Linked DNA regions of Homo sapiens. The protein of the gene in region 1 interacts with the protein of each later gene in a pairwise test. Each region holds a gene or a part of one and is shown on either strand. Other genes may lie near its edges.

Region 1 (6,029 bases):
CAAGGAAAAAAGAGAAAGAAACATGAATAGGGTGGTATCCTGGATGTCAAGTGAAGACAGTACTTGGAGGAGGGAGTGATCAGCTATGTCAAAAGCTGCTGAGAAGTCAAGAATGACATGGACTGAGAATGAACCACTGGATTTATTAACAAGGAGGTCTAGAGGAGTTTTGGCATAGCAGTGCAGATGAAAGCCTATTTGGAGTGGGTTAAAAGTGAATATAAGGGATCAGAATAAGTGAATATGGACAACTTCTTCAAGGAGATTTTCTATAAAGTGAAGACAGCAGGTGGTGGTGGCTGGAGGGGTACAGGGATCATGAGAAAGTTTTAATGACAGTATATATGTATGCCACTTAAAATGAACCATCAACTTATGGGGGAAATTCTCATCAGGAGAGAGTGGGTAGAAGCACTAGGGTGATATTCCCGAGGACGGCAAGAGGAGGTGGGATCCAGGGCACACGTGGAAAGTTTAACTTCAGGTGAGAACTCAGAAAGTCCATTCATATCAGGAGAGAAAGCAGGGCCTACAGGCTCAGGTATGGGTAGGAAGGTAGGCAGGTGGTGAGAGCTTGTGGAAATTGCCCTCTGATTGCTTATTCTCCTTAGTGAAATAAGAAGCAAAGCCTTCAGCTGAAGAGTCAGTCTAGAGAAGGAGGTATTCAAGATTTGAGGAGAGAAAAAGTAACTGCTAGGAGAGTGGGTAAGTGAACAGGCTAGGAAATACCAACTTAATTGAGGTAAGTGATTAGAGAAATTAAAAGTGCAGGACTTTGTAGGGTGGTGTATTTTTCTGCAACCACATGGGTGTGAGCACAGAATAGGCAAAGCAGCGGACTTAATCTAGCTGTAATCTGGCCATGCGAGTATGACAAGCCAGCAAAGGAGCAAGGAAGCTAAGTGTGTCTGCAACGGACTGAGTCTAGTGAGTGACAACAGCACTCAGGCTGAGTAGGGAGGGCAGCAGGGACATCAGGTGTGTGAAGGACTGTCAGCATCAGCATCATCAAGGACAGGGCATGGTGGTCAGAGTGAGACACCTGACATTGAGGTAATGATGAGTTCTCGGTTACATCCATGGGTAGTGGGTAACGTAGAGGAAAAGATCCTTACAGGAGAGGCGATCAAGGACAATATTGAAAGAATTTTAATTTAAATATTGCAACCACCAAGACACCAGGAATGTCAGAAACAATGAAAATGAGGCAGGCCTTAAAATGACCAAGAAACACTGGCATGTGAGGCAGGGGCCTATACAAGACTGCAACACAAAAGGGGCTTTAGAGACCAGGGAGGAGTGTCAGTGAGAAGCAGGGAGAAATGTGTCCCCTCTCTCTAGTTTCAGTTTAAAATGGTGCAGGAGCTGGGTGTGGTGGCTCATGAGTGTAATCCCAGCACTTTGGGAGGCTGAGGCGGGTGGATCACCTGAGCTCAGGAGTTTGAGACCAGCCTGGCCAACACAGTGAAACACCATCTCTACTAAAATACAAAAATTAGCTGGGCATGGTGGTGCGGGCCTGTAGTCCCAGCTACTTGGGAGGCTGAGACAGTAAAATCACTTTGAACCTGGGAGGCAGAGGTTGCAGTCAGCCAAGATTGTGCCACTGCACTCTGGCCTTGGTAACAGAGTGAGACTCCTTCTCAAAATAAATAAATTAATTAAATAAAATGGTGCAGGAGGAAAAACAATCTCCCCGCTGTGTGGGGAAGCAGGAACTTTATAGAGTAACATCTATCAGTGGAGCCCAAAGAGTTCTAAGCTAACTGCTGTCACTACATCTCTTTCCAAAACATTCCTAGTAAGACAACTGATACTGTTCTCCCCACCTTGGTTAGATTCTCTCCTCACCCAGAGGAATGACAAAGGAATTGAAAGTAGCTAGCTCCTCTATACCAGAAAAGGAGAAAACCCTGACAACAGGTAACATCTAATTCTTTTCTCATAGACCATTAATTTGTGCTAGTCTCTGAAAACAGACTAAAAAAATGGAAATTTGCCATTTTAAACAAATCAACTTATGGAATACTCACCAAGCACATAAAGAAAGAACTTCATGGTATCAGTAATATTTGGCGATTCCATTTCATACTCATCTTCATCTGATGATGTTAAGTTGTAGATAGTGAGGCTACCTGACACAGTGTCTAAATAAACCCTATTTTTAAAAGATGAGAAAGCTCTGAATTCAGAATTTTCCAGTTCTGCAACTTTATCCTTTTGTTTTTTCCATAGGACCTCTTTTAAAGGCACATTGCTTGGTACATGGAAAGTTACATTCCCATACACAACACCATATATTTGTTGGGAAAAACAGCTGATGAAACCTAGGAGAGAAAAAAAAATTGGTTAGAAAAAACAACATGACTTTGGTGGCAGAAATTATTCATCAGGTACTTTTTGTGCTAAGCTGACAAACTGCTGACACAAAATACAGGAAGTAAGAACATGTTTGACCATGTGGAGCTTACTCTTTAATAGAAAACTGGGACCTGCATAAATCCAAGAAATGGACCCGACATTCATGGAGCACCAACCATCTGCCAGGTAGTACGGGCTGGGCTGGGAATATGGGGTTGTTCCAGGCCCTCCAGGAGCCTCACGTGTGGAGAAGACAGGGAGCAGGCTCTACATCAGGGGCTGCATGAGGGGAGCTGCCTGGTCTAGGGCCTCCCCAAGGAAGTCATGCTGGAACTGACATAACGTGCAAATCACTGAAGGATAAAAGGCAGTTAGGCCGCAGGGCTGGGTAGGTGAGTGGGTGGGGAGTGGAAGAAGAGATGATCATACAGATATATAGGAAGCAGCACCCCCAAAGGAAGGCCCTGAATGGAGAAAGAGCATGGTGTGCTTGAGGATACACACGTGATTCCTAACAGCTAGAATGAGGAGGGCAAGGGGTGGCTGGTGGGGAACAAGACAGACAAAGGCCAGCCCACAGCCTATGTGTGCTAAAGTAAGGAACGCTAAGGGTTTGGACTGATCCTAATGGAGAGGAAGCCACAGAAAGGTTTTTAACAAGACTGGCCTAACATAATTTAAGTGTCAGCAGGCTGACTGTCTTTAGAGTAGAGAGCGGCTGACAGGGGCCAGCACAGAGGCAGGGAAATTATAATGAAAGTCAATGCTGTAGCAATGAAGTCCATGGACAGGACAGACCAGAGCAGGGTGTTTGTAGTGGGGACAGACAAGCGGACAGACTCAGGAGATGCTGGAGAGAGAAGTCAACAGGATTCAGTGATGAGGGTGGGGGAAGTGGATGGGACTGTCAGGTCTCCTTGGCTGACTGAGAGGCATCATTAACTGAGATCAGAAACAATGGCTGGGAAGCAAGTCGAGGGTGTGATGAAGATTAAGAACTCAGGGATTGGGTGCAGTGGTGGGTTGGAGCCAGGTCCACCTGCCCTCATGAGCCAATTGTTAGCATCTCTGCCCAGCCCTATTAGGGAACATCTAGTAACAGCACAGAAACTGACTAATGCTTCACATCAGAACCTCCATACCAACCTAGTTGTTAAACATTTATTAGAACCACAAGATTGGGATATTTTTGATACCCCAAAGTGGGTTTAAATGCATCTTGCTCTAGGACTTGTCTCTTGTTAAGAGAGAACAGCAGCTGGGTCCTGTGGTTCATGCCTGTAAGTCCAGCATTTTGGGAGGCCAAGGTGGTTGGATTGCTTGAGTTCAGGAGTTCAAGACCAACCTGGGTAAAATGGCGAAACCCCATCTTTACGAAAAGTACAAAAAATTAGCTGGGCATGGCACACACCTGTGGTCCCCAGCTACTTGGGAGGCTGAAGAGGATTACTTGAAGCCATGAGGCAGAGATTGCAGTCAGCCATGATTGTGCCACTGCACTCCAGCCTGGGTGACAGAGCATGACCTGTCTCAACAAACAAACAAAAAACTGCAGCTATTTTAAGTTAACATTAAAGAGCAATTAAAATTTGACTGAAGTTTTTGCCTAGTAGCAATTAGGGTAATTGAAATAATACAGGGGAAATCAAGAACACTGAATGACCAGTTGTAGACAACTGTGTTAGTAATTTCAGATAAGAAGCAAATATCACCCATTTGTTTATCTACAAGGACTTTTTAGAACCCATCTCCCTTAATTAAGGGGAACTGCCCTCAAAAACACACCAGCATCTTTCCATTGCTTTGCCGATTATGCATTATTTCCTCCACTCAACAGAGTATGTGGGAAGGCACAAGAAAAAGTACAGAATTCAAGGGGTGAGAGTCTACCACACACAATAGTGGAAACTCAAAAATGTCTTATAAATGTAAATGAAACAATGAGTGATAGAGGGCAGGGTGGTGGTGAAAGAGTAGGTATGAGATAAACTGCCATACCCTGGCGGCATGAAGATGTCTTTTGTCTTTCCCAGGGAGAGCTGATGTATCCTGGGCTTGAGAACAGTAGAAGAAAGTAGTCAGGAATGGAGCTAGTGGTGGAGGGAAGTGAGGGTAGAGAAAGGGGAGACTGCAGCTCAGAAGAAATCAAAGTACAGTTGACCCTTGAACAACATGGGTTTGAGCTGTGTGGGTCCACTTACATGTGGATTTTCTTCCGCCTCTGCCATCCCTGAGATAGCAAGACCAACCCCTCCTCCCACTTAGCCTGCTTTAACGTGAAGATAATGAGGATGAAGACCTTTGATGATCCACTTTCACTTAGTAAGTATATTTTCTTCCTTATGCTTTTTTTTCTTTTTTAAATTTTTTTATTACTATTATCTCAATAGTTTTGGGGGAACAGGTGATGTTTGGTTACATGGATAAGTTTTTTTTTTTTTTTTAGTTATTTGGGTGTGATTTCTGAGATTCTGGTGTACACTGTACCCAGTGTGTAGTCTTTTATCCCTCATCCCCATCCCACCCTTCTCCACAAGTCCCCAAAGTTCACTGTATCATTCTTACATAGCTTAGCTCCCACTTGTAAGTTAGAACATATGTTTGGTTTTCCATTCCTGAGTTACTTCACTTAGAATAATGGTCTCCAGTTCCATCCAGGTTGCTGTGAATGCCATTATTTTGTTCTTTTTTTTTTTTTTTTCTTTTGAGACAGAGTCTCGCTCTGTCCCCAGGCTGGAGTGCAGTGGCGTGATCTCGGCTCACTAAAAGTTCCACCTCCCAGGCTCACGCCATTCTCCTGCCTCAGCCTCCTGAGTAGCTGGGACTACAGGCGCCCACCACCATGCCCGGCTAATTTTTTTTTTGTATTTTTAGTAAAGACGGGGTTTCACCATGTTAGCCAGGATGGTCTCGATCTCCTGACCTCGTGATCTGCCCGCCTTGGCCTCCCAAAGTGCTGGGATTACAGACACGAGCCACCGCGCCTGGCCTATTATGTTCCTTTTTATGGCATATTCATATATATATATATCTCCCACATTTTCTTTATCCACTCATTGATTGATGGGCATTTATGCTGATTCCATATTTTTGCAATTGCGAGTTGTGCCACTATAAAGATGTTGTGTGCAACATGTTGTGTGTTGTCTTTTTCATAAAATGACTTGTTTTCCTCTGGGTAGATACCCAGTAATGGGATTGCTGGATCAAATGGTAGTTCTACTTTTAGTTGCTTAAGAAATCTCCATAGTGGTTGTACTAGTTTACATTCCCACCAGCAGTGTACAGGTGTTCCCTTTTCCCACCACACCCATGCCAACATCTATTATTTTTTGATTTTTAAATTACGGCCATTCTTGCAGGAGTAAGGTGGTATTGCATTGTGGTTTCAATTTGCATTTCCCTGATAATTAGTAATGTTGAGCATTTTTTCATATGTTTGTTGGCCATTTGTATATCCTCCTTTGAGAACTGTCTATTCATGTCCTTGGCCCACTTTTTGATGGGATTGTTTGCTTTTTTCTTGCTGATTTGTTTGACTTCCTTATAGATTCTGGATATTGGTCCTTTGTCAGATACATAGTTTGTGAATATTTTCTCCCACTTTGTGGGTTGTGTGTTTACTCTGCTGATTGTTTATATTGCTGTACAGAAGCTTTTTAATTTAA
Region 2 (3,500 bases), on another chromosome or scaffold:
ATTCAAATTACTTGTATAAAACAGTTTATTCTGTGTTTAGGAACTTGTAGGGGTGAAATGCTGACCTGTGTTACTCTTTCTTTCCATGATCAGCGTCCAGAGGACCAGAGGTTAATTTATTCTGGGAAGCTGTTGTTGGATCACCAATGTCTCAGGGACTTGCTTCCAAAGGTACATCACTTACACATTAACTTCTGAATGTTTTTAAGCACTCACCAGGTTAGGTTCAGGTCCTTAAGTACCTTCGTATTACTTTTAGCAGGAAAAACGGCATGTTTTGCATCTGGTGTGCAATGTGAAGAGTCCTTCAAAAATGCCAGAAATCAACGCCAAGGTGTGTCTGCCTCTTCATGATGGTAACAATTTGTATCATTCAGACTTTCAGGGGAGTAATAAAAGAAGTTGGATAAAACGTTTATTGAGAGACTGTATGGTGTTATTACCAAGTAATATTTTGTTTCTTTCCTAGGAATTAGAAACTGTATTATCAACACAAAGTGATGAGTTAATAGTAGCAGATTGTTCCGTTAGTGCTGTAGTAGAAAGGTGGAGTTACATATTGCACTATCTTATGGGATATGATTTGATCTATGGTTACTGTGTATCTAGATTACTGAACTAACACTAATCGGGTTTTTATTGAATTTAGCACATAGCAAGTTTCTTCAAAGGAGTCACTAATTTTTATAAAGAGTACAAAAGTGAATATATTTCCTTTGGAAATTTTCATTGTGATTAGTTGGATAGGAAAAGATCAGAGTTTTTATCAAGTGATCTTTAAAGAATTTTTTTTTTTTAAAAATGGTCTCGCTGTGTGGCCCAGGCTTTTCTCAAACTCCTGAGGGCAAGCGATCCTCCCACCTCAGCCTCCTGAGTAGCTGGGACTACAGGCATGTGCCACTAGACCTGGCTCTAAAGACATATATGACACACGAAACCATTTATTTTTCATTTCACAATGTTTATTCACATATATGGTATTAGTATTCTAATGTAGTGATGCACTCTAAATTTGCATTATATTTCCTAGAACATCTGAACAGAGCATAGGAAATTCCCTATTTTGCCATTATCAGTTCTAACAAAAATCTTAAAAGCACTTTATCATTTCATTTCCCTGCACTGTAATTTTTTTAAATGATCAAAAACAGTATCATACCAAGGCTTACTTATATTGGAATACTATTTTAGAAAGTTGTGGGCTGGGTTGTATTTATAAATCTTGTTGGTCAGATGTCTGCAATGAGTAAATTTAGCACCATTATCAGGAAGCTTTCTCACCAATGACAACTTCATTGGAAGATTTTAATGAAAGTGTAGCATACTCTAGGGAAAAAATATGAATATTTTAGCATCTATGTATTGAAAATTATGTTGAATAAATGTCAGACTATTTTTTACATAACGTTGCTTCTGTTTAATTTTGTCACGTTCAGAGGTGGGGGGTAGGAGATGTAAGCCCTTGACAGCAAAATAATTCCTTTTGCTTGATTTCAGACAGTTGCATCAGCTCCTTTGTTCTGTGTTCATGTTACACTTATTTAGGTGGCTGAATCCACAGAGGAGCCTGCTGGTTCTAATCGGGGACAGTATCCTGAGGATTCCTCAAGTGATGGTTTAAGGCAAAGGGAAGTTCTTCGGAACCTTTCTTCCCCTGGATGGGAAAACATCTCAAGGTGAGTGTTATAATAAAGATCTTGGCTTATGCAACATGAATGTTCCTCGTTTGCATCAATTTAAGAATAAGGTATGTTTACACGTATATAATCAGAACTTTTAAACATACAGAATTTTGCTTTATAAATAGCTTCGCTTTAAAGATCTCTTATATATTTAACTTTTCTTAATACACAGCCTTTTAGTACACACAAATTTAAAAAGTAGGTAATGCATATATTGAAAAAAAAAAGAAAATGTAGGCGTTTTATCCTTCCATTGTGCTGACCGCTTGGTTGCCGTCATGATAGGAAATTAGTGCTGCTGCAGGAGAAAACAGCTGTCGTAAGCATTGTGCAGCTGCTTTGCTGAGTGGCTTTGTGCTTTATTGTAACAATGGGTGACAACAAGGGAGAGACTGTTTAAGAAGTGTCCTTCCAAAGACTTGGGGGTACTAGGAAAATTGGCCAATTTCTTATAACTATTAAAGCTTTTCTTTAGAGCAAAAGTCAGAACTAAATGCTCTGTTATTTGGATTTTTATAGCTCTTGGAATACATTGTTTTTGGGGAAAAATTCATTAACTGCAAGTTGCAATTCTGTAACTCTCCAATTCTCCGTCCCCCTTTTTCTAGTACTTTTTATACACAATATTTTATAAAGCCAGGTGTTTTAGGAATGAGTTTTTCTTCCTTTTCCCCCTTAATGGAACTTTCAAATATACACAACAGTGGGGACTGGATAATTAATCCCCACACCATCACCCAGGCCTAATAAATAACAATCAGAGTTTTACCATAGCTCATCTATTACCCTTTCCCTTTTTTTTAAAAAAAGAGTATTTAAAAGTAATTCCCAGGCATCATGTTATTTCATCCCTATATTCTTCAGTATATAACTATGAAAACCTTTTAGTTATCTTGTATATCTAGAATGCCATTATCAGATCTAACAGAAATCTTAAAAGCACTTTATCATTTTATTTCCATGCACTGTAATTTTCTTAAATGATCAAAAACAGCATCATACCAAAGCTTACTTGTATTGGAATACTATTTTAGAAATACTCTGTGTATGGAATTTAGTTAAAAGATTGTCAGCATATAAATTGGATAATTATTGGATAGAAAATTATTGGTTAGAAAAACTTAAAACTACTTCCCTTATTCTGATTCAACTATTCTTAACTTGAGAATTGAGGCTCATATTTGACTCTCTGAATCTCACCATATTTAAACTTGATTTCCTTTAACAAATATTTATTGAACAGCCAGTACATACAACTTTGCTTAAGGATATGAGTTGACCTGCAGGAATGACCACATAACCAATTTCTGATCTTTGGGCAATTCTATTATGGTTTCAATTTTGTGATGTGCTACTGAAGAAATTGACTGTGTAAGAAGCACAAAGCCAAAGATGACTCGCATACACCTGCCCTGTGAAGTTGAGGGCTGTGTGGCCTGATTAAAGAAGCATGCATTTGGCCGGGCGCGGTGGCTCACACCTGTAATCCCAGCACTTTGGGAGGCCAAGGTGGGCGGATCACGAGGTCAGGAGATTGAGACCATCCTGGCTAACACGGTGAAACCCCGTCTGTACTAAAAGTACAAAAAATTAGCCAGGTGTGGTGGCGTGTGCCCGTAGTCCCAGCTACTGGGGAGGCTGAGGCAGGAGAATGGTGTGAATCCGGGAGGTGGAGCTTGCAGTGAGCCGAGATTGCGCCATTGCACTCCAGGCTGGGCAACAGAGCGAGACTCCATCTCAAAAAAAAAAAAAAAGAAGCATGCATTTGACATCAGACCAGCTCTGAAATCCAGCCCTGCTACTTACTAGCTCAGTGAC

Evidence for each region.
Region 2: the proteins of CD58 (region 1) and HERPUD1 interact in a two-hybrid assay, tested with the Homo sapiens proteins (one large-scale study listed by BioGRID and IntAct).

Annotation. Positions count from the first base shown.
Region 1 is NC_000001.11:116,542,278-116,548,306, forward strand, and holds part of CD58 (lymphocyte function-associated antigen 3), read right to left. Parts: intron 4,684-6,029; exon of another isoform or gene 4,601-4,683; intron 2,548-4,600; exon of another isoform or gene 2,424-2,547; intron 2,328-2,423; coding exon 2,034-2,327; intron 1-2,033. UniProt on the Homo sapiens protein: Ligand of the T-lymphocyte CD2 glycoprotein.
Region 2 is NC_000016.10:56,935,142-56,938,641, forward strand, and holds part of HERPUD1 (homocysteine-responsive endoplasmic reticulum-resident ubiquitin-like domain member 1 protein), read left to right. Parts: intron 1-93; coding exon 94-171; intron 172-259; coding exon 260-334; coding exon of another isoform or gene 335-336; exon of another isoform or gene 337-350; coding exon of another isoform or gene 351-356; intron 357-1,545; coding exon 1,546-1,676; intron 1,677-3,500. UniProt on the Homo sapiens protein: Component of the endoplasmic reticulum quality control (ERQC) system also called ER-associated degradation (ERAD) involved in ubiquitin-dependent degradation of misfolded endoplasmic reticulum proteins.